2 separate regions of the Homo sapiens genome follow, and region 1 is linked to region 2. Evidence: fine-mapped expression QTL. A gene starts in region 2. The other region holds a variant in brackets. All regions are shown on one strand. Distances are from middle to middle.

The links. PIP is the estimated chance that this variant, and not a neighbour inherited with it, causes the effect.
Region 1: its variant is fine-mapped to the expression of MOGS in whole blood (GTEx, PIP 0.97).

Annotation. Positions count from the first base shown.
Region 1 is chr2:74,554,499-74,566,395 of GRCh38, forward strand. DOK1 (docking protein 1) reads left to right here and starts at 222. Exons shown (of 5, transcript NM_001381.5): 1 at 222-316; 2 at 656-955; 3 at 1,077-1,170; 4 at 1,396-1,580; 5 at 1,810-3,053. The coding sequence starts at 257. The coding sequence ends at 2,616. M1AP (meiosis 1 associated protein) reads right to left here. Exons shown (of 11, transcript NM_001321739.2): 8 at 7,719-7,925; 9 at 5,653-5,793; 10 at 5,200-5,211; 11 at 3,385-4,376. The coding sequence ends at 4,218. It also overlaps a transcript of LOXL3 not described here. RefSeq lists a silencer at 1-313 and enhancers at 322-839, 464-523. The variant GCT/G (reference allele first, on the strand shown) is at 4,692.
Region 2 is chr2:74,459,015-74,470,911 of GRCh38, forward strand. It overlaps MOGS (mannosyl-oligosaccharide glucosidase), which reads right to left and starts at 6,368. Exons shown (of 4, transcript NM_006302.3): 1 at 5,882-6,368; 2 at 5,482-5,708; 3 at 4,176-4,372; 4 at 2,043-3,998. The coding sequence starts at 6,233. The coding sequence ends at 2,261. WBP1 (WW domain binding protein 1) reads left to right here. Exons shown (of 4, transcript NM_012477.4): 2 at 629-731; 3 at 859-1,035; 4 at 1,207-1,867. The coding sequence ends at 1,667. It overlaps INO80B-WBP1 (INO80B-WBP1 readthrough (NMD candidate)), which reads left to right. Exons shown (of 8, transcript NR_037849.1): 6 at 629-731; 7 at 859-1,035; 8 at 1,207-1,877. RefSeq lists silencers at 5,935-6,154, 8,348-8,642.

The DNA of each region.
Region 1 (11,897 bases), 95 kb after region 2:
AAAACCGAGGACTTTCGGTGGAGCCACTGGCGCGCCCCCACGACGGCGGGTAGGGGCCTGGGGTGCTGCAGCTCCCGGCTAATCCGGGGGTCTCCACCATTCCTTCTCGCTCCTCTCCCTCACCCCACCGCGACCCCCCCAGCGGCTGCCGGCGGGGGCCGGGGAGGGGCGGAAACTCCTCCAGGGAACCCGGCCCCGCCTCCCGCCCCGCCTCCCGCCGCAGGGCCAGGAAGCGCGGAAGGAACCGCCGGGGGCCATGGACGGAGCAGTGATGGAAGGGCCGCTTTTTTTGCAGAGTCAGCGCTTTGGGACCAAGGTAGTCTGGCGCATGGATGCCGAACCTTATCCGGGCTAGTAGTGGGTGAGAGAGCCCAGAAACAGGGAGAGGTGGGCAGCGGGCTGGAGAGCGGCGCCGGGAGTTGGAGAGCCTGTGACTTTCCCGTGAAGTTGCTTTGCACACTCCCGGGAAGCGTCTGTAGTCTAGGGGTTCTGGTCCTGGGGAGACGGAGTGGCATCGTCCTTGGGAAACTTCGCCCCCAACCCCGTTTGGAAGCCCCAGATCCCAAATCGACTTGCGCCGCAACCTCCTTCCCCGTCGGGACCCGGGCCGCCTGCGCACGCCACTCCCTCTCGAGCACTCTCTCTCTCTCCCTAGAGGTGGAGGAAGACCTGGGCCGTGCTCTACCCGGCCAGTCCCCACGGCGTAGCGCGGCTCGAGTTCTTTGACCATAAGGGGTCGAGCTCTGGGGGTGGCCGAGGGAGCTCGCGCCGCCTGGACTGCAAAGTGATCCGTCTGGCTGAGTGTGTGAGTGTGGCCCCCGTCACCGTGGAGACCCCCCCTGAGCCCGGCGCCACTGCCTTCCGCCTGGACACTGCTCAGCGCTCGCACCTGCTGGCGGCCGACGCGCCGTCCAGTGCAGCCTGGGTGCAGACGCTGTGCCGAAACGCCTTTCCGGTGAGGAGCTGCGGCGATGCGGGGTGGGGGCAGTTACAGAGGCAGAGAAATGGGGCTGCCTCAGACCGACCCCCGCTCCCCGCTGAGGAAATTACGGGTTTCTCGATGCTCTCTACTACAGAAAGGCAGCTGGACTCTGGCGCCTACCGATAACCCACCTAAGCTTTCTGCCCTGGAGATGCTGGAGAACTCCTTGTACAGCCCTACCTGGGAAGGTAGACGCCTCAGAAGCCCGGGCAGGGATGGAGTGAAGAGGAGGAGGGCCGAGGGCCTTTGGGAAGTGGGTGGATACCCAGGGGCCCATGGGGAAGTAAGAAGTAGGAAGGCCCTGAGATCTGGCTTCCGAGTGAGTGCTTGGACACTATGCTCATGAGTCCTCTGGGTCCCCACTGCTGCCCCCGTCCCTCCCCCGCAGCTGTCTAATCGTGTATGCCTTCCAGGATCCCAATTCTGGGTAACGGTGCAGAGGACTGAGGCCGCCGAGCGCTGTGGCCTGCATGGCTCCTACGTGCTGAGGGTGGAGGCTGAAAGGCTGACTCTCCTGACCGTGGGGGCCCAGAGTCAGATACTGGAGCCACTCCTGTCCTGGCCCTACACTCTGTTGCGTCGCTATGGCCGGGACAAGGTGCAGGGGCTGTCCGGGAGGGCTTCCTGGGTTGGGCAGCTGTGGGAGGGGTGGGGCAGGACAGAAAGTGGGAAGCTCTGACCTTTGGATCCCCCTTTCTTGCCTACCCGGTGACCCCGCGTCTGTTCGCAGGTGGTCTCTTCTTTGTAGATACCCTAACTAGTGCAGGCGTGTGACTCACTTCCTCTGATGGCTCCTGGTAATGTGTTTCCCCCTCTACCCTCCTTAGGTCATGTTCTCTTTCGAGGCCGGCCGCCGCTGCCCCTCAGGCCCTGGAACCTTCACCTTCCAGACGGCACAGGGAAATGACATCTTCCAGGCAGTTGAGACTGCCATCCACCGGCAGAAGGCCCAGGGAAAGGCCGGACAGGGGCACGATGTTCTCAGAGCTGACTCCCATGAAGGGGAGGTGGCAGAGGGGAAGTTGCCTTCCCCACCTGGCCCCCAAGAGCTCCTCGACAGTCCCCCAGCCCTGTATGCTGAGCCCTTAGACTCCCTGCGCATTGCTCCATGCCCTTCCCAGGACTCCCTATACTCAGACCCCTTGGACAGCACGTCTGCTCAGGCAGGAGAGGGAGTACAACGGAAGAAACCTCTCTATTGGGACTTGTATGAGCATGCGCAGCAGCAGTTGCTGAAGGCCAAGCTGACAGACCCCAAAGAGGATCCCATCTATGATGAACCTGAGGGCCTGGCCCCAGTCCCTCCCCAGGGCCTTTATGATCTGCCTCGGGAGCCCAAGGATGCATGGTGGTGCCAAGCTCGGGTGAAGGAGGAGGGCTATGAGCTCCCCTACAACCCTGCCACTGATGACTACGCTGTGCCACCCCCTCGGAGCACAAAGCCCCTCCTTGCTCCCAAGCCCCAGGGCCCAGCCTTCCCTGAACCTGGTACTGCAACTGGCAGTGGCATCAAAAGCCACAACTCAGCCCTGTACAGCCAGGTCCAGAAGAGCGGGGCCTCAGGGAGCTGGGACTGTGGGCTCTCTAGAGTAGGGACTGACAAGACTGGGGTCAAGTCAGAGGGCTCTACCTGAGAAGGACGGCAAGGCTGAGGTGGCTAAGGGGGACCATGGGGAGGTGGCACTAGGGATCAAAGAAGATGGTTAGAACCAGCAGAAGCCAGAGGGTGGGAGGGGCCATGCTGTGTGAGACCAGGGGACCAGAGGGATGGGAGAGTCAAGGGAAGGACAATCCCAGGAAGTCCTAAGAAGTGGGGCAGATGGCAGGGCTGAGGATGGGCTCTGCATCCCCCAAAGCCATCCCTTCCCTACTTCCCCAAATGAAGGGACGGCTGTGGGACCAGGTCTGTGGAAAGTGGTGCATGGTCAGAATGGGTGCAGTTTGAGGGGCCTGTGTGGAGGCCTCAGGGAGATGTTGGACTGTGCCTGGATCCTTACTCCTGCATTGTTCTTTGCCAGAGACCTATTTAAAAATTTTAAAATTCTCATTAAAGTCAGCTTGGGTTTAAGAAGTTTATGTGTGTGAAGAGAAAAAGAGGGGACACAGTGGTTGGGTTGGGTGTGGTGGGGATCAAGAGGAGAACCAGGAATGTGTTGAGAGTCACGGAGAGGCAAGGGGCCCAGGAAGGGAACAGAAGTGTGGCGGTTCAGTGCCTGGGGAGTCAAGTCAAGCTGCCCTGGGCTAGATGTGAGCTCTGTGGCCCTGGGTGATAACATCTGCAACCCTCAGTTTCCCCTGTGCCCCTCTGTAAAATGGAAAAGCTATAATGGGCTCTACCTCACAGGGCTTTTTGTATGAAATTAGATACATTATAAGTATTTAGTGTAATCTGAAGCACAGGGTGTTTTTTTAAAAGTTTTTATTATTTATGTAGAGATGGCGGGGGGGTCTCACAGTGTTGCTCAGGCTGGTCTCGAACTCCTGGCCTCAAGTGATCATCCCACCTCAGCCTCTCAAAGTGTTGGGATTACAGGTGTGAGCCACTGCTCCCAGCCCAGAGTAAACATTTTATAAATGGTAGCTATTATTCTGTGGATGGAGGGAGCAACAGGAAGGTTGGTACATGTGGGGAGAGGGTAACAGGAAAGGAGTAGGTCTTTTTTTACACCATCCTCTCCCCTGTTCTGGGCAGCCCTCCCACCCCCCAGCACACACACTTTGCATGTAGGTACCAAGCACTTGTCTCTTTGGAGGCTGAAGCCTGGTGGTGTAGTGGGAAGGGCACAGGCTCTGAAATGAGGCTTGGATTTCAATCTTACTTGTCTTTTATGAGCTTTCAAAACCTCATCCTTGTTCCTGAGGTCCAGTTTACCAAAGGTGATCTGACCTCATCCACCTGCTTACACAGAGCTACAAGAAGAAATTCTGAGTTATGAATGCTCCTAACAATGGTAGAAGCTTACTGGGTGTTTAATCTTCACCTGTGTAAACAGTAGCAAATGATTCTAAAGAAAATGAAAGTCCTTGCTGGAGAAAGGACAGGCTCGGGTGTGTCGCTTCCAGACTTGAGGAGTGGGACAGCACTGAAACAGGACAGGAAGGCTGTTGTTTCCCAGTCAGCCCTCACTCACAGAGGCTCAGGCGGATAGAGAGCAAGTCTGACCACAGATAGCCATTATGTGAACCTGAGCATGGATATGGTTAAGCTGGGCAGCTGGGCTCTGGTGCTGGTGACTTAGGGCCTTGAGGGATCCTTCTCCCACTCTGAAGGCAGGAAGAAGGCATCTGAGGAAGATTTGCTGGCTGCTGGCATCTTGGAGGCTCTGCCTGGGACAGGAGTCATAGGCAGGGGGGCCACAGTAGCTCGAGCTCGGTTGGTCTGCAACTGCCCAGTCTGCAAAGAGAGCAACCAGAGCCTTCTCTGAAGATCAGAGTTTCTGAGCACCTATCCCATTCTCTGTTGGGCTTCCTGTCCTAACTCTTTCCTAAGTTCATTCCCTGGAGTGACAGCCTCAAGGCCGAGGACAGTGATCTGGAGTCCCTTAAGCCCAGCCTCCACAGTGCCTGTCTCCTTGCCTGGTGTCCTACCTCTGGCAGCTTGCCTAGCAGCTAACTTGTGGTAGCCTCTGCTCCTACCTCTGGTTTGGAAACGTCCTTCTGTAATTTTAGCTAAGACAAAATGAATTTTTTTTTTTTTTGACAGGATCTT[GCT/G]CTGTTACCCAAGCTGGAGTGCAGTGGCACAATCTTGGCTCACTGCAGCCTTGACCTCCTGGGCTCAAGCAATCCCCCGACCTTAGCCTCCCAAGTAGCTGGGACTACAGTGTGCACTACCACTCCTGGCTAATTTTTTTTGTATTTTTGTAGAGACGAGGTTTTGCCATGTTGCCCAGGCTGGTCTCAAACTCCTGAGCTCAAGCGATCCACCTGCCTCGGCCTTCCAAAGTGCCGGAATTATAGGCATAAGCCACCGTGCCCGGCCTAAAATGAGAATTTTTCTAAAGGCTGTGTTACTAAGAAACTGAGAAAAAGTTAATAAGGGCAAAAGGAAGCCCAAATATTATATAGAACACGGGTTTCATAAAAATATTTCTCTATCCTCAATCACTCTTCCCTCTTCAACCCCAACTGTCTTCAACCCCAGATAGTCATGGGAGTCCTCTCAAGTTACTAATCTTGGTCAGCCTCCTTTCCTCATCTGTAAATGAGCAAACACTTACCTTGCAGGGATGCTGTGAGGATTAAATGAGAAAAACATATAAGCAAGCACTTATCATAAAACCTGGCAAATGACTGGTGCTCTATAAATATTAATTTCCCATCCCTTGGGCATTTCTTTTCCCACCTTTCCTTCAGCCTTTTCTTTCACGAGGACTGTGGTTATAGTTCCTGTGTAGCCAGTTTGCTTAATGGGACAATGGTCTGTTTAATGAGCTATCATAAACACTACAATTAAAACACCTGAACATTATTATATGTAAATGCCCTAGCAAACAGGCCTCCCTACCCAGTAAGGGTTCTAATTTTCCCCTCCACCAGGGGTGGATCCTGGAGGAAGGCTACTCCCTTGGATGGGGGCGGTGTTGGGATGGGGGAGGAGGGTTTTCTAGGACTCTGGGCATGAAGGGGAGGGAGGGGAAGTAAGGAAGAGGAGGGAAGGAGGGGAGCGGTACCTTTCTCGGAGCTCGGCTCTCCCAGTGTGGGTGGAGCCGCCCCTGAGGCTTGGCATAGATGCTGCTCAGGTGTGAGTACAGGTGGCTTTGAACATGCAAGGGGTTGTAGGTGGGCTCCAGCTCCAGGCTGTCCAGCATGCTCTGAGGAAAAGAGAGGAGGGGCCTCACTAGGGAACTTAAGATCACAGAACACAAGATGTCAGGTAGCGATCCAGGAGTGTGAGGGGCTGGAGGAAGTGTGAAACCCCAGGGCTGCCATGAAGGCTGTGAAATAGATGCTGTCCCCCTGGGTGTTCTGGCCTGAGGTCCAGTGCTTGTGATGTAAGGGCCAGGCATGGATAGGAGAAGTAGGAACAACCCTAAGTGGTTAGGAACACTGAACACTCTGGCCCCAAGATGCATGTCCAGGGGTTCTGAGGGGGCCGGCGCACATGAATGCTACAAGGGATCCACTGTGAGCATGGAGGGAGGGTGTGTCAGTGGGCTACCCTGCAGGGCAGGGTGCTCACAGCCTGCAAGGCGAGTACATGGAGTTCTCAGCCTAGAGGTGAGCTGAGCTGAATGGAAAGGGAGGAGGGGATACAGGAGCACAACATTCCTGTGCAGTCAGGTTTTCCGGCCACAACATCCTGTGCCAGGAACCACTGGCCCCAAAGTGAGACACTGAGCAGGCCATGGCCACTTGTGCCCACCTCTCTCTGTGTCTCTGTGGCCGCCAAGCCAAGAGCACAATCCCAGGCCTTGTCCTTGCTGCATTTAAGCTAGCGAGCCAGCAGCGACGTGGTTCCAGTTCTCCCTACCCAGAGCCAGCCCTCCCACTCTTAGCCTGGGGAGACTAGCAGAGCAAATATAGAGAATCCAGATCCCAGGAAGAGGAAAAGGAGAAGGAGGAGAAACAGGTGGAGGAGGAGGGGAGGAGGAGGAGGAGGAGGAGGAGGAGAAGGAGAAGGAGGAGGAGGAGAAGGAGGAGGAGGAGAAGGAGGAGGAGGAGAAGGAGGAGGAGAAGGAGGAGGAGGAGAAGGAGGAGGAGGAGAAGGAGGAGGAGGAGAAGGAGGAGGAGGAGGAGAAGGAGGAGGAGGAGAAGGAGGAGGAGGAGGAGGAGGAGGAGGAGAAGAAGAAAAAGAAGGAGGTAAAAATGGCTTTCAGAGTTGTTTGCTCCTCTGCATCTGCATCTATCACATCTCATCTTGAAGCCCTTCCTATTTTGGGCACCTACATTGGCTGCCTTTTCTCAACAAACATAAATGAGCGCAAACACAGGTATACACATATGCACACGTGCAATGCAGACAGACCCCTAAGAACACACCAGCACACAGATGTGCACAGGCGCATCTACACCCACTGCCACCAATTTAGAGACCCAACCACAGACACACTCGGGCACAAAAACACACAAAGACACGAAAACCCATACAAAGGCTGATTTTTTGGGTCTCCTTTTATTCCCTTCTCCCTTCTTTTTTCTTCTGCTTTCCACTGTGTCTTCTTTCCTTTCCCTCCCAAAGTTCTGCTCTCCCTTGTCTAACTTCACAATCTCCTCTCTGGGGAGGAGGTGGGGGCAGGAGAACCAGTCTGCGCAAAGACAAAACCAAACCAAACAAGCGTCCAGTGCATCCCCAGGAGCTGGACCTGCTGGTGTTGTGGCTTCCTCCCCTGCCTCCCTGTGCCCTGGCCTGACATCAGGTTTCCACTCTGTGATGCTCCCTTTTCTCCTTCACAGCCACCCATTCCTCAGATTTCAGGTCCGTGTGCATGTCGTGTGTCCTCCAGGATGGCTCTAATTCCCAGTCATCACTGATGCCAATATCCCTTTTCTCTCCCAGTTTTTTGTTCTCAAACCTCATTTCCCTCCATTCTATTTCACTCCTTACCCTGCTGCCATAATCTAAGTGTTTACTTCCTTCTTCTGGCATAATTGCCTATCCTTGCTTTCTCTTCTTACTCTCTTACCACACTCCTTCAGCTCCGCATCCATTCCCTCATGGGCTCACTCCTCTCCCTCATCCCTTTCTCAAACTCCATTCGCTTCTAGATCTGTCCCATGAGATCTGGGCTCCACTTGCCTCCACATTCTTAAGGCTATCATCATGTGGGTCCTCAGGTAGCAGGGGGAAGGTGCTGGGCAGCATCAGTTCCCGCGTGGCCACCGCCTTTACCAGCAGTGTGAGGGAGTGTGACGGCATGATCACATAGAAGGTGCTGGCAGGAATTCTCTGGCTGTGTCCTGGGCCCGGTGGTTCCCCCTTGGCTAACAGCAGCCATTCCCTTTTCTGAAACAAGGACATACAGAAATACTGGTTCATCTTTAGTCTATGGCATGGTTTGAGGATCAGTCCCAATTGAAGTTTCCCTGACTTCCAGGGGTGCTGAGGAGGGCAGAGCCATTTAACTTCGGCCCTGGTAGGGAGGGACTTCCTGCATGAATCATCAATATCACAATGTACTACTCTTCCTCCCTGGTTTGAGATATGCCAGAGAGAGTATATAAAAGGGTCAACAATGGAGAGAAAAGTTAAGAAATTCCCTGTAACTTGAAGTAGGTGTTCATCCCAGAGGGGCCTACCACATTCAGCATACATGTGGACTTTTAAGAATTATAATTCTTAAAAACAGAGTCTTGAAGCCCATGGTGCGTGACTGTACCCGTAGCTACTCAGGAGGGTGAGGTGGGAGGATTCCTTGAGCCTAGCAGATCAAGGCTTCAGTGAGCCATGATTGTACCACTGCACTCCAGCCTGGGTGACAGAGTGAGACCCTCTCTGTCTCAAAAGGAAAAAGAAAAAAGCAGTGTCTTGAAACCAAGACTTGTATGGGGTGTTGTCTGTTGTAGAAATTCAGTTCTTCTTTTGAGGGTAATAAAGTCTGGTTGTTTGCTAACAACTGGGATTAGAATGGGCTGACTGGGCAGTATCCCTGGAATGTCCAGAGAGGGTACAAGGTAGTAAGGCCAGATGTGGTGGCTCACATCTGTAATCCCAGCACTTTGGGAGGCCAAGCCAGGAAGACTGCTTGAACCCAGGAGTTCAAGACCAGTCTGTGCAACATACCAAGACTCTACAAAAAATTAAATAAATAAAGATAGATAGATGATTGATAGATAGACAGACAGATAGAGAGAAGGCAGTGAAAGCAGCCTGCAAAGTGGGAGGAGAAAGAGAGAGCAGGGCCGGGAGCGGTGGCACACACCTGTAATCCAGCACTTTGGGAGGCTGAGGCGGGTGGATCACCTGAGGTCAGGAGTTCTCGACCAGCCTGACTAACATGGTGAAACTCCATCTCTACTAAATACAAAAAAATTAGCTGGACGTGGTGGCGCATGCCTGTAATCCGAGCTACTTGGGAGGCTGAGATAGGAGAATTGCTTGTACCTGGGAGGTGGAGGTTGCAGTGAGCTGAGATTGCACCATTGCACTACAGCCTGGGCAATAAGAGCGAAACTCTGTCTCAAAACATAAAAAAAAAAAAAAAAAAAAACATAAAGAAAGAGCAGAGGGAGAGGTGGGTGGGTGCAGGGCCCTTGAGATCATCTCAGCCAATCACAGGACAAGAAGAGTCAGGATTCTGGGGGCAGTGCCTCTGTGGATGATGGGTTATTATGGAACAGAGGGTGGCACTTTGCCATGTGCCATGGTGATGGCAGAGGTTAGGGCATGGGTAAGAAGAAGAGACAACCAGACTTCTGAGAAGATTTTGTAGATGTACCCTTTTAAATGAGCCATGAAAATGAGGCAATTTTTTTTGTGGTAGCTTTTCAACAAAAAACACAAAACTCCAGGAAATATGGAGTTAGAACTATCATAATCATCTCAAACTGTGTCCTCTTACTGGGGGTGATCTTCAGTTACATCTGGTACAAACCGTAACAACCTCCCTGCTACATAAGATAGAAGAAAACACATGAGTTCTGGCTACTCTTATATGAAAAGTTGAGACAAATAATAAAAGAGGAAAGGCAAAAAGGGGGAAAAGATTTTTAGAGGAAAGAGGATTATCAGTGTCTTGTGGAAGACAAATAGAAAGTGACACAGTGAGACAGAAAACACTTGCTGTAGCATGAGAGTTAGACCCCACGGGACACATGCTGGGGTGGGTGTAGGGGAGGCTCTGCACTTTAAAGCAGTGTCATCATTCTGTGCAGTGCGGAGCTCTGAGGAGGTCTGGTAGGCACAGCAAGTGGTAGGAAACCTGTTAACAGCTCCAAGAAAAACAGGTATGTACCATTCCTGCGGTTGCTGACCTCTTTGTGGGGTAGGACTTGACTGATAATTCGGGAGGCATGATGCATCCTCACTAGAAGGTTTTGGGGGTGGGACAGATGATTTGGGCATGGGAAAATTAGTCATAATCATAATTACAAACTTTAAAGGAATGCTTATCAGGCACCAGGTACTGTGCCAAGAGCTTTATGCGTGCCTTCAGAAGTTCATGCTTTCTTAGCATTTTGCTTCTATCTAGAGATGTGCTGTCTTCCTGAAGAACAAATCCAAATGTGCAGGAAAGTCAGCTTGATGCTTAAAATCCATCATGTTGGAAATAAATGGTATACAAATCATGGTGTGTGTGTATGTGGATTGTGGGTTGGACCTGCCCCTGCTCTGAGGACATGGCCTGTTTAAGCCTGGAAGGGATAGAAACCAGGAAGTTTCAGGGGACTCCATTTCAGTTGGCTTAAGTAACTTCTGATGGGGCTCAGGATTTGGATTATTAGTATTATTTTAAATCTTCTATTTTTACATTGATTCGTGCATTTACTTGTGAATTTTTTGTCTATTAAGAATTTATTCAGGCCAGGCACAGTGGCTCACGCCTGTAATGCCAGCACTTTGGGAAGCTGAGGCGGGCAGATCAACTGAGGTTAGGAGTTTGAGACCAGTCTGGCCAACATGGTGAAACCCGGTCTCTAATAAAAATACAAAAACATTAGCCAGGCATGGTGGTGTATGCCTGTAATCCCAGCTACTCAGGAGGCTGAGGCAGGAGAATCACTTGAACCCGGGAGGTGGAGGTTGCAGTGAGCCGAGATCACACCACTGCACTCCAGCCTGGGCGACAGAGCGGGACTCCATCTCAAAAAAAAAAAAAGAATTTATTGAGCGCCTATTATGTTCCAAGCACTAGGTGTGGGTACACAGAACCATGCCAGAACAATGACATCATGAGAAAAGAAAACTATAGATCAATATCTCTTATTAATATAGATACAAAAACCCTAACTACATATTAGCAAATCAAATTTAGCAACATATAAAATGAATTATATACTGCAACAAAGTAGGATTTATCCCTAAGGCTGGTTTAATACCCTCAAATCAACTGATGTAATATACTATATTAACAGAATAAAGAACAAAAACTACATAATCATCTCAATAGATGGAGAAAAAACATTTGGCAGCCGGGCGTGGTGGCTCACACCTGTAATCCTAGCACTTTGAGAGGCCGAGGTGGGTGGATCACAAGGTCAGGAGTTCAAGACCAGCCTGGCTAATATGGTGAAACCCCATCTCTACTAAAAAAATACAAAAATTAGCCGGGAGTGGTGGCACGTGCCTGTAGTCCCAGCTACTCAGGAAGCTGAGGCAGGAGAATCACTTGAACCCAGGAGGCGGAGGTTGCAGTGAGCCGAAATCACACCACTGCCCTCCAGCCTGGGCAACAGAGTGAGATGCCGTCACACACACACACACACACACACACACACACACACACACACAAACATTTGGCAAAATCCAACACCCTTACATAATAAAAATGCTCAGTAAACTAGGAGTAGAATGGAACTTCCTCAACCTGATAAAAACCTCTATAAAAAAATCCACAGCTAACCTCATATGTAGTGGTGAAAGAGTGGATTCTCTGCCTCTAACATCAGAAACAAGGCAGAGATGTCTGCTCTTGCTACTTCTATTCACTATTGTCCTGGGAGGTGTGCTGAAGACCAGAAGGTCATTTTCCACATTTTCTGTACTGTGTTAAGCTCTTTGGATTCTGGGTATGATCCTAGGGGTAGAGGCACCCATGAAGATATTGCGTGTGTCAACATCCTGGCCCTTGGGAACCAATGCTTTCTAAATTTGATTTAGAAAAATATAGTAATGTGACATTTCTCATATCAGAGAGCTATGGTGCAAAAGGTCTAGATAGATGTGGCAACAAGTACATGGGTGTGGAAAGGCAAGAAAGATGAATGGGGATAGGCTGTGGTGGAGGCAAGAAAGGCTTCATACCGAAATTATTTAAGC
Region 2 (11,897 bases):
CTTGAGGGAGCAATTTGGAGAAGAGCTGGAACCCAGACTCGCGCCCTGGATGCCATCCTTTATCATCCACAGCAATCCCATCTGGTTGGGAGCACTGCTCTGGGTCTCACACTGCCCCTCCTCTATCCTAGGGAGCCTGAGGCCCAGGGGTGGAAAGATCCAGTTGCGGGTGGGGGGTAGTGAACCGCGCAGGATAATGAAAGCAACTTGCTTTGGAAATGACCTACCGCTACCCGTTGTCTGAGACTGAGATTATCTCAGACTGTCTTCTGGCTTCTGCCAAAACACTCCCTTAACAGAAAGCACCGAGGGGATGGGGGTAGGGGGGTTGGGGAGAGTGAGGCTTGAGTGTGAAGGAAGTCTCATATATGCAGAGCTGAAATCTCCCTCTTTGTATGTCCACACTTTTGTCTTGTTCTCTAGACTGATTCTTGCTATTCCAAATCCTCTTCCACGTTGACAGCCCTTCAGATATTTCAACACTCCTCTCAGCATCCTCCACTTCCCCCATCTCTCCAAGCTGAACTTGGTTCACAGGGTGGGATTGTGTATGTGCATGCAGGAGGTGGGGGTGGACAGTGCCCTGGGCTGGAATCCCCCTTAGTTCTAAGTGCCTCCTTGCCCGCAGCTTCGAGAGCTGTGCCCAGGAGTGAACAACCAGCCCTACCTCTGTGAGAGTGGTCACTGCTGCGGGGAGACTGGCTGCTGCACCTACTACTATGAGCTCTGGTGTAAGTCTCCAAGAGGGCTATTTCCAGGTCCCTGTGTCCACCCTCCCTTGGACCTCAGAATTTCGGCCTTCAGGGCCCCTTCTCTGCATGAAAGATGCCTGAGTTGCTCCCTCCTTGCCTCTTGCAGGGTTCTGGCTGCTCTGGACTGTCCTCATCCTCTTTAGCTGCTGTTGCGCCTTCCGCCACCGACGAGCTAAACTCAGGCTGCAACAACAGCAGCGGCAGCGTGAAATCAACTTGTTGGCCTATCATGGGGCATGCCATGGGGCTGGTCCTTTCCCTACCGGTTCACTGCTTGACCTTCGTGAGTGACTTGATGCCCTGGGTCAGCTACCAGTGGCCCTCCCCAAACCAGAACCCCAAATCGTCTCACATTCCCTTTTCCACACATTTCAAAGTATTTTTCCCTAATATAAAAACTAGCACCCTATACCTGGTTGTCTTCAACCAATCATGCCAATTTTCTCCCCTGCAGGCTTCCTCAGCACCTTCAAGCCCCCAGCCTACGAGGATGTGGTTCACCGCCCAGGCACACCACCCCCCCCTTATACTGTGGCCCCAGGCCGCCCCTTGACTGCTTCCAGTGAACAAACCTGCTGTTCCTCCTCATCCAGCTGCCCTGCCCACTTTGAAGGAACAAATGTGGAAGGTGTTTCCTCCCACCAGAGTGCCCCCCCTCATCAGGAGGGTGAGCCCGGGGCAGGGGTGACCCCTGCCTCCACACCCCCCTCCTGCCGCTATCGCCGTTTAACTGGCGACTCCGGTATTGAGCTCTGCCCTTGTCCTGCCTCCGGTGAGGGTGAGCCAGTCAAGGAGGTGAGGGTTAGTGCCACCCTGCCAGATCTGGAGGACTACTCCCCGTGTGCACTACCCCCAGAGTCTGTACCGCAGATCTTTCCCATGGGGCTGTCTTCCAGTGAAGGGGACATCCCATAAGTAGTTTTGAGAGGGTGGATGGGTTACTTGCCCACCAGAAACAGCCCTAGTCCCAACTCCTTGCGTTCCTTTGGCCCCTCCCTGCCTACCTAGAATCTGCCTGAAAGGGCTGGAGAGGGGCAGTATTGGGGGACTGTGCTAGCTTTACCCCCGCAGGACATACACAGGAGCCTTTGATCTCATTAAAGAGATGTGAACCAGCTACTTGTGGATTTGGGTGGACTAAAGCTCAACTCACTGCATTGCACTTGACCTGACTGGGTTTGAAGGGGACAGGTTATGGCCACTTGACCCCACCTTCCCTGAGGACAGCAGACAGTGCTGAGGCCTGGACTGACCTAAGGCCTCTTGGTGAGGCAAATCTGGCAAAAGCAATAGAGTTCAAAATGTTTTTTCCAATTTATTTAGAAAAATAGACTCTGGATTCACATTCACCCCAGGGCTATGTGGGATGACAGCAAGGAGACACCTGAGATGAAATGAGGAAGGTTTGAATTACTGGTATCCAAGGGGCTGGGGGCAAAAGCCAGAAGCCTTTGTCCCTTCAGAGCCAGAGTGGCATGAGTGTCTTGGCTCCCCTCCTCTCCCTCCCTTCAGTAGTCTTCAGCCATGGCCAGTAAGACAAGGCTGGTCCAGCCGTGGAAAGGGCGGCAGCCCATGCCTCGCCCATCGCGGTCACTGTACTGCTCCCAAAGAAAGCCTGTAGCCTGGTACTGGCGCCATACATTGCCTACCACGTTGGCACGGAGCTCACCGTGGAGTTTGGCAGCCCGAGCCTGGTGAGGACCCTCCAGATGCCCATAGTGGTGGAGTGCTCCCAAAGCCAGGTAGTTGACATTGAGCCACACAGCACCCCGCCAGTAGGGGGGATCATGCTCTGAATTGCGCTGGCCATAAAAGGAGCTGGAGGCTGCAAGGGAGCGTAAACCAAAGGGGCTCCAGAGATGGCGGCTGTCGGCTAGAATGTCCAGCAGGGGCCCAAGGCGGGATGAGGTGGGGTCCAGCAGTCGCAGCAGCAAGGGAAAAAGACTGACATAGCCAAGAGCATCTACATACTGCAGTTGAGGTTGGGGCCGACCCACCACCCGAACGAGCCCCTGAGGGGGCCTGGGCTTCAGCTGTACTGCTTTTGTGTGGTTCCCAAAGTCTGCAAAGACTCCTAGCTCTGGGGCCCAGTGCAGCTCATCCAGGCTCTCTGCTGCCTCCAGTGAGGCAGCCAGTGGGCCCAGCTCAGCAGCTACCTCAGCCTCACCCAGATGCTCTGCCAGCCGCGTCAGCACACGGGCACCCAGTGCCACCCAACATCGCAGGTCCAGGTGCCGCTCGGTTACTGAAGGGTGTGAAGCCCGGGGGTAGTCATCCAGCCCAGAGGGTAGGGTCTTGGGGTTCAGTAAGGTTGGTAAGGCAGGGTCCCGTCCCCGCCAGCGGTAAGATAGTGGCAGTGGGCCTGCCTGGCTCTGATGGAGCCAGGAAAACCAGGCATGCAGGCGGGGCAAGGCCTTTCGGAGGAAAGCCAAGTCGTCAGGGTCACCAACCTCTAGCATATGGGCTACAGGCAAAAGTAGGGTTGGGGGGTTGGCGTGGACTGCTCGTTGTACTAGGAATTCTGGAGGCACCCGGGCTCGGGCCTCATCCCCCAGTATCTGCTCCCTCCCAATCCAGCCATCAGCATTTAGCAGCCCCAGCCAGTGGCCAAGGGCTTCCCGGGTGAGGGAGGGATCCCACCGCTGAACCACCAGCTGGTGAAAGCCTTCATCCCAAAGGAAGCCTCGTGGGAAGAATGACCGGGAGGGCACTGCTGTAAAAAGAGGTACGGGTGGAAAGAGGGCTGGGTCCACCTTCTGCTCAGACCCTTCCACCCCGATGTCTGGCAATACCAGCCCTTGTCCGTAGAAGTAGCCAATTCCACCAAGGAGGCCGCTGAGGGCAGCCTGACCCAAAACCTGCTCGCCAGAGCTCAGGCCCTTCTCCTTCAGCTGGAAGGTCTTCTCAAAGCGCTCTCTAAAGCCTTCAGCATGGCTCTCCAGGGCCTGGGTCAGTAGACTGCCTGCCAGTCTTGGCAGGGCTTGATTTCCTCCTGCCTGGGCACTGCCTGATTCAAACACAAACTCTATGGAAATGGGAATTTTCAGGGTCACCTGCTGTATCAAGAACTGCCCCTGCCCTTGCCCACTTGGACCTCTGTCCTCCCACTTCAGGGATCCTGGCAAGCCGAGGTAGCGTTCAGGGGGGGCCCCTGGGGGCCGATGCTGAAACCAGCTATTTAGGCGACTCTTTACCATCTCTGTCAGCAGGGGCAGTCCTGGGTTGGAGGTCCAGAAGACATTGTAGCTTGAAGGGGAGAAGATAAATAGGAAATATTATTCAAGAGAAGGCAGTGGGCATTATAAAGAGAAATACAAAGTGTTCAGGAGTCAGGTTGGGAGGTCTCAGGCAGGGGACATGGAGACTGGTGAAAATGGGAATAACCACCCCTTCCATCCCCCAACATTCTTTTCCCCCAGTTACCTGCCATACTTGGGGGCTGTATCCCCTGGACTGGTTGGTGGCAAAAGTGTAAAGCGGAAGTCACCAAGTTCACTGGTGTGCCCACTGATAAACTTCAACTGCCCCTTGGCCCCAACCTCTGGTAGTAGGACTTCCTTGCCATCTGTCACCACATAGAAGAACAGGGAGACCAAAGGGAGGGCAGAAGTACCTGAGTCCTGAGTGACCAACGAGGACAGAAAAGAACAGTGTTAGATTGGCATTCTCTCTTGAATTCCCTCTTGAGAATCAGCCTTAGTGAGGGAAAGGAACAGTAGGCAGGGGTAATGTAAACAACATACGTCTGGCAGTAATGAGGGTCACTGAGGGTAACCAGGTACACCCAAGCGGGATGAGATAAAGAGCCTTGCACTGGGTGCCCTGGGAGATAACAGTATACTTTTGTACTATGTCCTACACTAAGAACTCTACACAGTTGATTTCATTTAATTCTTTTTTTTTTTTTTTTTTTTTGAGGCGGAGTCTCGCTCTGTCGCCCAGGCTGGAGTGCAGTGGCGCGATCTCAGCTCACTGCAAGCTCCGCCTCCCAGGTTCACGCCATTCTCCTGCCTCAGCCTCCCGAGTAGCTGCGACAATAGGCGCCCGCCACCACGCCCAGCTAATTTTTTGTATTTTTAGTAGAGACCGGGTTTCACCGTGTTAGCCAGGATGGTCTCCATCTCCTGACCTCATGATCCGCCCGCCTCAGCCTCCCAAAGTGCTGGGATTACAGGCGTGAGCCACCGCGCCTGGCTTTTTTTTTTTTCTTGAGATGGAGTTTTGCTCTTGTTGCCCAGGCTGGAGTGCAATGGCACGATCTCGGCTCAGCGCAACCTCCACCTCCCTGGTTCAAGCAATTCTCCTGCCTCAGCCTCCCAAGTAGCTTGGATCACAGGCATGCGCCACCACGCCCGGCTAATTTTATATTTTCAGTAGAGACGGTGTTTCTCCATTTTGGTCAGGCTGGTCTGGAACTCCTGACCTCAGGTGATCCGCCAGCCTCGGCCTCCCAAAGTACTGGGATTACAGGCGTGAGCCACCGCGCCCAGCCTCTTTTTCATTTAATTCTTACAGTCCTGTGAGTTAAGTGCTATTATTATCTACATTGTACATTTTACAAGCAAGGAAATCAAGGCTTAGAGATGGTAAATAGAAATGGTTATACAGGCAGTTGTTTAAGGCAGGATTTAAGCCAGGCAGCCAGAGCCCACTTCATGCTGCATTTGCTGGCAGCAAGGGAAGGATGGAGGGGGTCTGGGCTGAGAAAAGGGTGTCCTGAGGCCCTGACCTGAGGCTCTACAGTCACTCTCCAGCTCCAGTCCCCTCCGTGCTGACCCCCAGGCCTCTTGACGAACTCAGTGGTGAGCCTTAAGGCCCCATCCTGGATGTGTTGGCGCCCGAAGGAGAGGCCGTCGTGGAACTCCCAGCCATAGGGACCCACACCGTCCCCCTGCTCACACGTGTGCCTGAGCTTAGGAGTCCCCGGGGTGGTGCCCTGCTGCGCCCACATCAGTCCTGGGGGTAGAATGGCCACGTAAGTCAAAGAGCAGGGGACCTGTCCCTCCGGGTCTCCGGGTCATCCCTCTTCATAACTCTCCTGATCCATTCCTTCCCACCCTTGCTCTCGCTTCAAGCTGGGGCGCCCAGATTAGGAGTCCGCCTGCCTGCCCGCCCTGGGGCCCGGTTACCGGTGAGGAGGGGCTTCGGGCTGCGGGTCTTCATGCCGAAGTAGACGTGAGGGCGGTAGGTTCCCCAGAAGAGGTCCGGGGCCACGGCGGGGCTGGAGGAGTCGGCAGGCAACACAGGAGGCGCGGAGTGCAGCGTGACCGCCCGCCGCGCACGGTACCACGCCAGCACCCAGCGCCCCGACATACCCAGGGCCAAAGACAGGACCACGACGGCCAGAGCCACTCCTCCAGCCGTGCTACGCGGCCCGCCGCCCCGGCCGTCCCGTCGCCCGGGGCCTCCCCGAGCCGCCCTCTCGGCTGTCCGCACTCCCTCTGCCGGCACTGCGCGGCGCCGCCGCTCGCCCCGAGCCATCCTGGCACTGAGGTCCGCGTCACAAGAGCTCGGAGAGGCGGCAGTGGAGCCCGGGTCCTGCCTCACCTCTCCGGCTCCCGCCTCTCGCCCTGGCGACCACCGTCCGGTTAGCGACACCTGCCAGCCAGCGCCTGCGCCTCCGCCTCCGCCTCCCGCCGGAAGTCCCGCCCCGCCACGTTAGGTTAAGTCCCAGAGTCCGGAACCGCTGCCTGCGGCTTGACACAGGGTTGGTACGTAGCGTCTGTCCTGGGCGTTGGTCCACCGGGATTGCGTTTATCTGGCGACCCCATGGAGTTCACAGGCTCGGAAAAACCAATCTAACGTTGGGCTGAGGCATGAGAATCGTTTGAACCCGGGAGGCGGAGGTTGCAGTGAGCCGAGATTGTGCCACTGCACTCCAGCCTGGGCGACAGAGCGAGACTTCGTCTCAAAAAAAAAAAAAAAAGACTGATGTGGCCAGGCACCGAGGCGCACATCTGTAATCCCAGCACTTTGGGAGGCCGAGGCAGGTGGATCACCAGACATGAGGAGTTGGAGACCAGCCTGGTCAACTTGGTGAAACCCCATCTCTACTAAAAATACAAAAATTAGCCGGGTGTGGTGGTGGGTGCCTGTAATCCCAGCTATTCGGGAGGCTGAGGCAGGAGAATTGCTTGAACCTGGGAGGCGGAGGTTGCAGTGAGCCGATATTGCGCCATTGCACTCCAGCTTGGGCAACAAGAGTGAAACTGTTTCAAAAAAAAAGAAAGAGAGAGAGAGAGAGAGATGGAGGGAGGGAGGGAGGGACGGAGGGAGAGAGAGAGAGAGAGAGAGAGACTGATGCTTTATGCAACACGACCACTTATATTTCACTATAATCTGACTGGTGGCCCCACTCTCCACTAGTGGTAGACTTTTTGCTTATGAAATCATCTGACCAAACCCAATGGTTAGTCCTGTTTTTGTCTTTCTTGCTACCGTTGCATTTGTCGACATCCTTATTGTAGCACTTATTACATACCTGTTTCATTTTTCATCTTTGTATCACAGTACTAATCAATTATAGGCATAAGGCAGATGCTAAATATTTATAAATTCAACACATGTTTATTGTACACCCTATATCGCATTATGCAAGGTGCTGGGGACTCAGAGAAAATGGCCCCAACCTCAAGTTCACAGTCTAGAAGCACAATGCCAGCACTCAATGCATGTTGAACCATACCCATTTTTTTTTTTTTTTTTTTTTTGAGACGGAGTCTCGCTCTGTCACCAGGCTGGAGTGCAATGGCATGATCTCGGCTCACTGCAACCTCTGCCTCCAGGGTTCAAGTGATTCTCCTGCCTCAGCCTCACGAGTAGCTGGGATTACAGGTGCCCACCACCACGCCCAGCTAATTTTTGTATTTTTAGTAGAGATGGAGTTTCACCAGGTTTGCCAGGCTGGTCTCGAACTCCTGACCTCAGGTGATCCACCCACCTCGGCCTCCCAAAGTGCTGGGATTACAGGCGTGAGCCACCGCGCCTGGCCAGACCACCCCCATTTTTACAGATGAGGAGAGTAGTTAAGACTGACCCAAAATAACAGCCAGTTAATTATGGAGCTGGGGAACTCAAATCCAGGTTGTTCTTTTGACTTTAGAATAAGGCCTCTTAGGGCAGGCGCAGTGGCTCAAGCCTGTAGTCCCAGCACTTTGGGAGGCAAAGGCGGGCGGATCACCTGAGGCTGGGAGTTCGAGACCAGCCTGACCGACATGGAGAAACCCCGTCTCTACTAAAAAATACAAAATTATCTGGGCATGGTGGTGCATGCCTGTAATCCCAGCTACTCGTGACACTGAGGCAGGAGAATCACTTGAACCCGGGAGGCAGAGATTGCAGTGAGCCAAGATTGTGCCATTGCACTCCAGCCTGGGCAACAAGAGCGAAACTCTTGTCTCAAAAAAAAAAAAAAAAAAAAAAAAGAATAAATAAGGCCTCTTAGATAACAGCAGTTACTACACTCCCAGCAATGTTTTAGGTACTTTACAGATATTAATTCATTTAATCTCCTTAACAGTCCTATGAGAAAAGTACTATTATTTTCATTTTACAAATGAAATAAGCACTGATAGATTAAATAATTTGTCTAAAGTCATACAGCTACATAAAAACAAAGCTAGGATCTCAACCCCAAGCAGTCTGGCTCATTACAACACTATACTGCCTCCTCCTAGCTTTCTTTTTTAAAGGGGGAGGGGAAAAACGGTCCTTTGAAGATAGCACCCTTTTAGACCGGGAAAAGGTATAGTAATGCTGCTGTAGGAGGGTCGTGGGAAATGTATCTGGCAAAGTACACAGCAGGCCACTGTCTACAGATCTTTTGTTACCTAGCTGAGCATTGTGAAGGTGTCTAAAGCAGTGGCTTTCAACCATTTTCCTACAACTCACAATAAGAAATAATTCCATAGTGCAACCCAGTATGTGCAGATACACATACACACACAACTTATTTAAAACAAGTTACCTAAAAGAATACTTTTAGCTGGGTGTGGTGGCTCACGTCTGTAATCACAGCACTTTAGGAGGCCAAGGCAGGAGAATCACTTGAGTTCAGGAGTTCTAGACCAGCCTGGACAAGATGAGGAGACCCCCCCATCTACAAAAAATTTAAAAATTAGGGTTGGCCGGGTGTGGTGGCTCACGCCTGTAATCCCAGCACCTTGGAAGGCTGAGGCGGTGGATCACCTGAGGTTAGGAGTTCAAGACCAGCCTGGCCAACATGGTGAAACCCCGCCTCTACTAAAAACACAAAAATTAGCTGGGCATGGTGGCACGCGCCTGTAATCCCAGCTACTTAGGAGGCTGAGGCAGGATAATCACTTGAACCCGGGAGGCAGAGGTTGCAGTGAGCTGAGATGGCACCATCGGCGACAGAGCAAGACTCCGTCTCAAAAAAAAAAAAAAAAAAAAATTAGGGCTGGGCACGGTGGCTTACTCTTGTAATCCTAGCACTTCGGGAGGCCAAGGAGGGTGGATTACTTGAGGTCAGGAGTTCCTGACCAGCCTGGCCAACATGGTGAAACTCTGTCTCTACTGAAAATACAAAAATTAGCTGGAAATCGCTTGAACCCAGGAGACAGAGATTGCAGTGAGCTAAAATCGTGCTCCACTGCACTCCAGCCTGGGCAACAGAGCAAGACTCCATCTCAAAAAAAAAAAAAAAAAATTAGGCCAGGCATGGTGGCTCACGCCTGTAATTCCAGCTGCTTGGGAGGCTGAGGCGGGAGGACTGCTTGAGCCCAGGAGATGGAGGGTGCAGTGAGCTACGATTGTGCCACTGCACTCCAGCCTGGGTGACAAAGCATGACTTAATCTCTTTAAACTTCCTATTCTAAGTGCCATGCAGTCTGATTTTTTTTTTTTTTTTTTTTGAGATGGAGCCTTGCTCTTGTCAACCAGGTTAGAGTGCAATGGTGCTATCGGCTTACTGCAACCTCCACTTCCCGGGTTCAAGCAATTCTCCTGCCTCAGCCTCCCAAGTGGCTGGGATTACAGGTGCCCGCCACCACACCCGGCTAATTTTTTGTATTTTTAGTAGAGATGGGGTTTCACCATGTTGGTCAGGTTGGTCTTGAACTCCTGACCTCAGGTGATTCCGCCCACGTCGGCCTCTCAAAGTGATGGGATTACAGGCATGAGCCATTAAACTCAGCCTCAGTCTGATAATTTTTATTCTATTCTACTTTTTTTTTTTTTTTGAGACAGAGTCTCACTCCATCAACCGAGCTGGAGTGCAGTGGCATGATCTCCACTCAGCGCAGCCTCCACCTCCTGGGTTCAAGTGATTCTCCTGTCTCAGCCTTCTGAGTAGCTGAGATTACAGGTGCCTGCCACCACACCCAGCTATTTTTTATTTTTTTATTTTTAGTAGAGACAGCGTTTCATCATATTGGCCTGGCTGGTCTCTAACTCCCAACCTCAAGTGATCTGCCCGCCAAAGCCTCCCAAAGTGCTGGGATTACAGGCATGAGCCACTCCACCCGGCCTACTTTTTTTATTTTATTTTATTATTATTATTTTTTTAAGAATGGTTTAGGCTGGGTGCGGTGGCTCATGCCTGTAATACCAGCACTTTGGGAGGCCGAGGTGGGTAGATCACCTGAGGCCAGGAGTTCGAGACCAGCCTGACCAACATGGAGAAACCCCCTCTACTAAAAGTACAAAATTAGGCATGGTGGTGCATGCCTGTTATCCCAGCTACTTGTGAGGTTGAGGCAGGAGAATTGCTTGAACCCGGGATGCGGAGGTTGCAATGAGCTGAGATTGTGCCATTGCACTCCAGCCTGGGCAACAAGAGCGAAACCCTATCTAAAAAAAAAAAAAAAGAATGGTTTAACTCCCTAAATTGATTGCATGGTCCACACTAATGAGTGTTGAGGAAGTATGAAAAACAGTTTAGGCAATGTTTTTTCTTTTTTTGAGACGGAGTCTTGCTCTGTCACCCAGGCTGGAGTGCAGTGGTGCAGTATCGGCTCACTGTAACCTCCACCTCTTGGGTTCAAGCAGTTCTCCTGCCTCAGCCTCCTGAGTAGCTGGGATTACAGGCAACTGCCACCACGCCCGGCTAATTTTTGTATTTTTAAGAGATGAGGTTTCACCATGTTGGTTGGGCTGGTCTCGAACTCCTGACCTCATGATCCACCCACCTCGGCCAAATCCCAAAGTGCTGGGATTACAGGCATGAGGCACCATGCCCGGCCGGCACTGTTTTCTTAAACAGGGAGTAGTGAGAGATAAAACCCATCGCATGTTTTGGAAGGATAAAATTAAGTGGCAGCAAAAATATTTAGGAAATAGACTGGGTAGCAGAATGCAATAATGATGAATAGAGTGAATGGGAATGGAGAGATCACTTCAGAAGTTTTGTTTTGTTTTTGAGACAGTGTCTTGCTCTGTCACCAGGCTAGAGTGTAGTGGTGCAACCACAGCTCACTCTAGCCTTGAACTCTTAGGCTCAAAAGGATCCTCCTGTCTCAGCCTTCTGAGTAGGTGGGACTACAAGTATGAGCCACCTTGCCCAACTTTCAGGCACTTTTTTAAAAGACAGAATATTCTGAACTGAGTGACCAGATATGCAGAGAATGGAAAGGAACAGAACTAGAGAACACTGGTTTCCAGCCCAGGTGGCTGAGTAGATGAAGTGCCTGTTTTTAAAAAGGAATGGGTAAGTCAGGGAAGAGAGGCAAGTATATGTGTATGTAAGATTATCAATTCTATTTTATACAAAGAGAGTTGGTGGGATTTGGAGGAAATTGGTAGCAGGTAACCTGATTATAGCATAGAAGTTGGGATTAGAACCAAACAGAAATAGTTTAACCCCAGAAGGTGTAATTCAAGTTGTGAAAGAGGATGAGATGCCCCAGAAAAAAATAGAGAAGAAAAAGAATGAAGGTAGAACACCTGTGTGGTTCAAAAGAAAAAGGACCCAAGAGGGAGAGAAGTTCCACAAATGGGTGAATTAAGAGTTGCAGGCCGGGCACAGTGGCTCATGCCTGTAATCCCAGCACTTTGGGAAGCCGAGGGGGCGGATCAGGAGTTTGAGGACAGCCTGGCTGACATGGCAAAGCCCCATCTCTACTGAAAATACAAAAATCAGCCAGGCGTGGTGGCACATGCCTGTAATCCCAGCCACCCAGGAGGCTG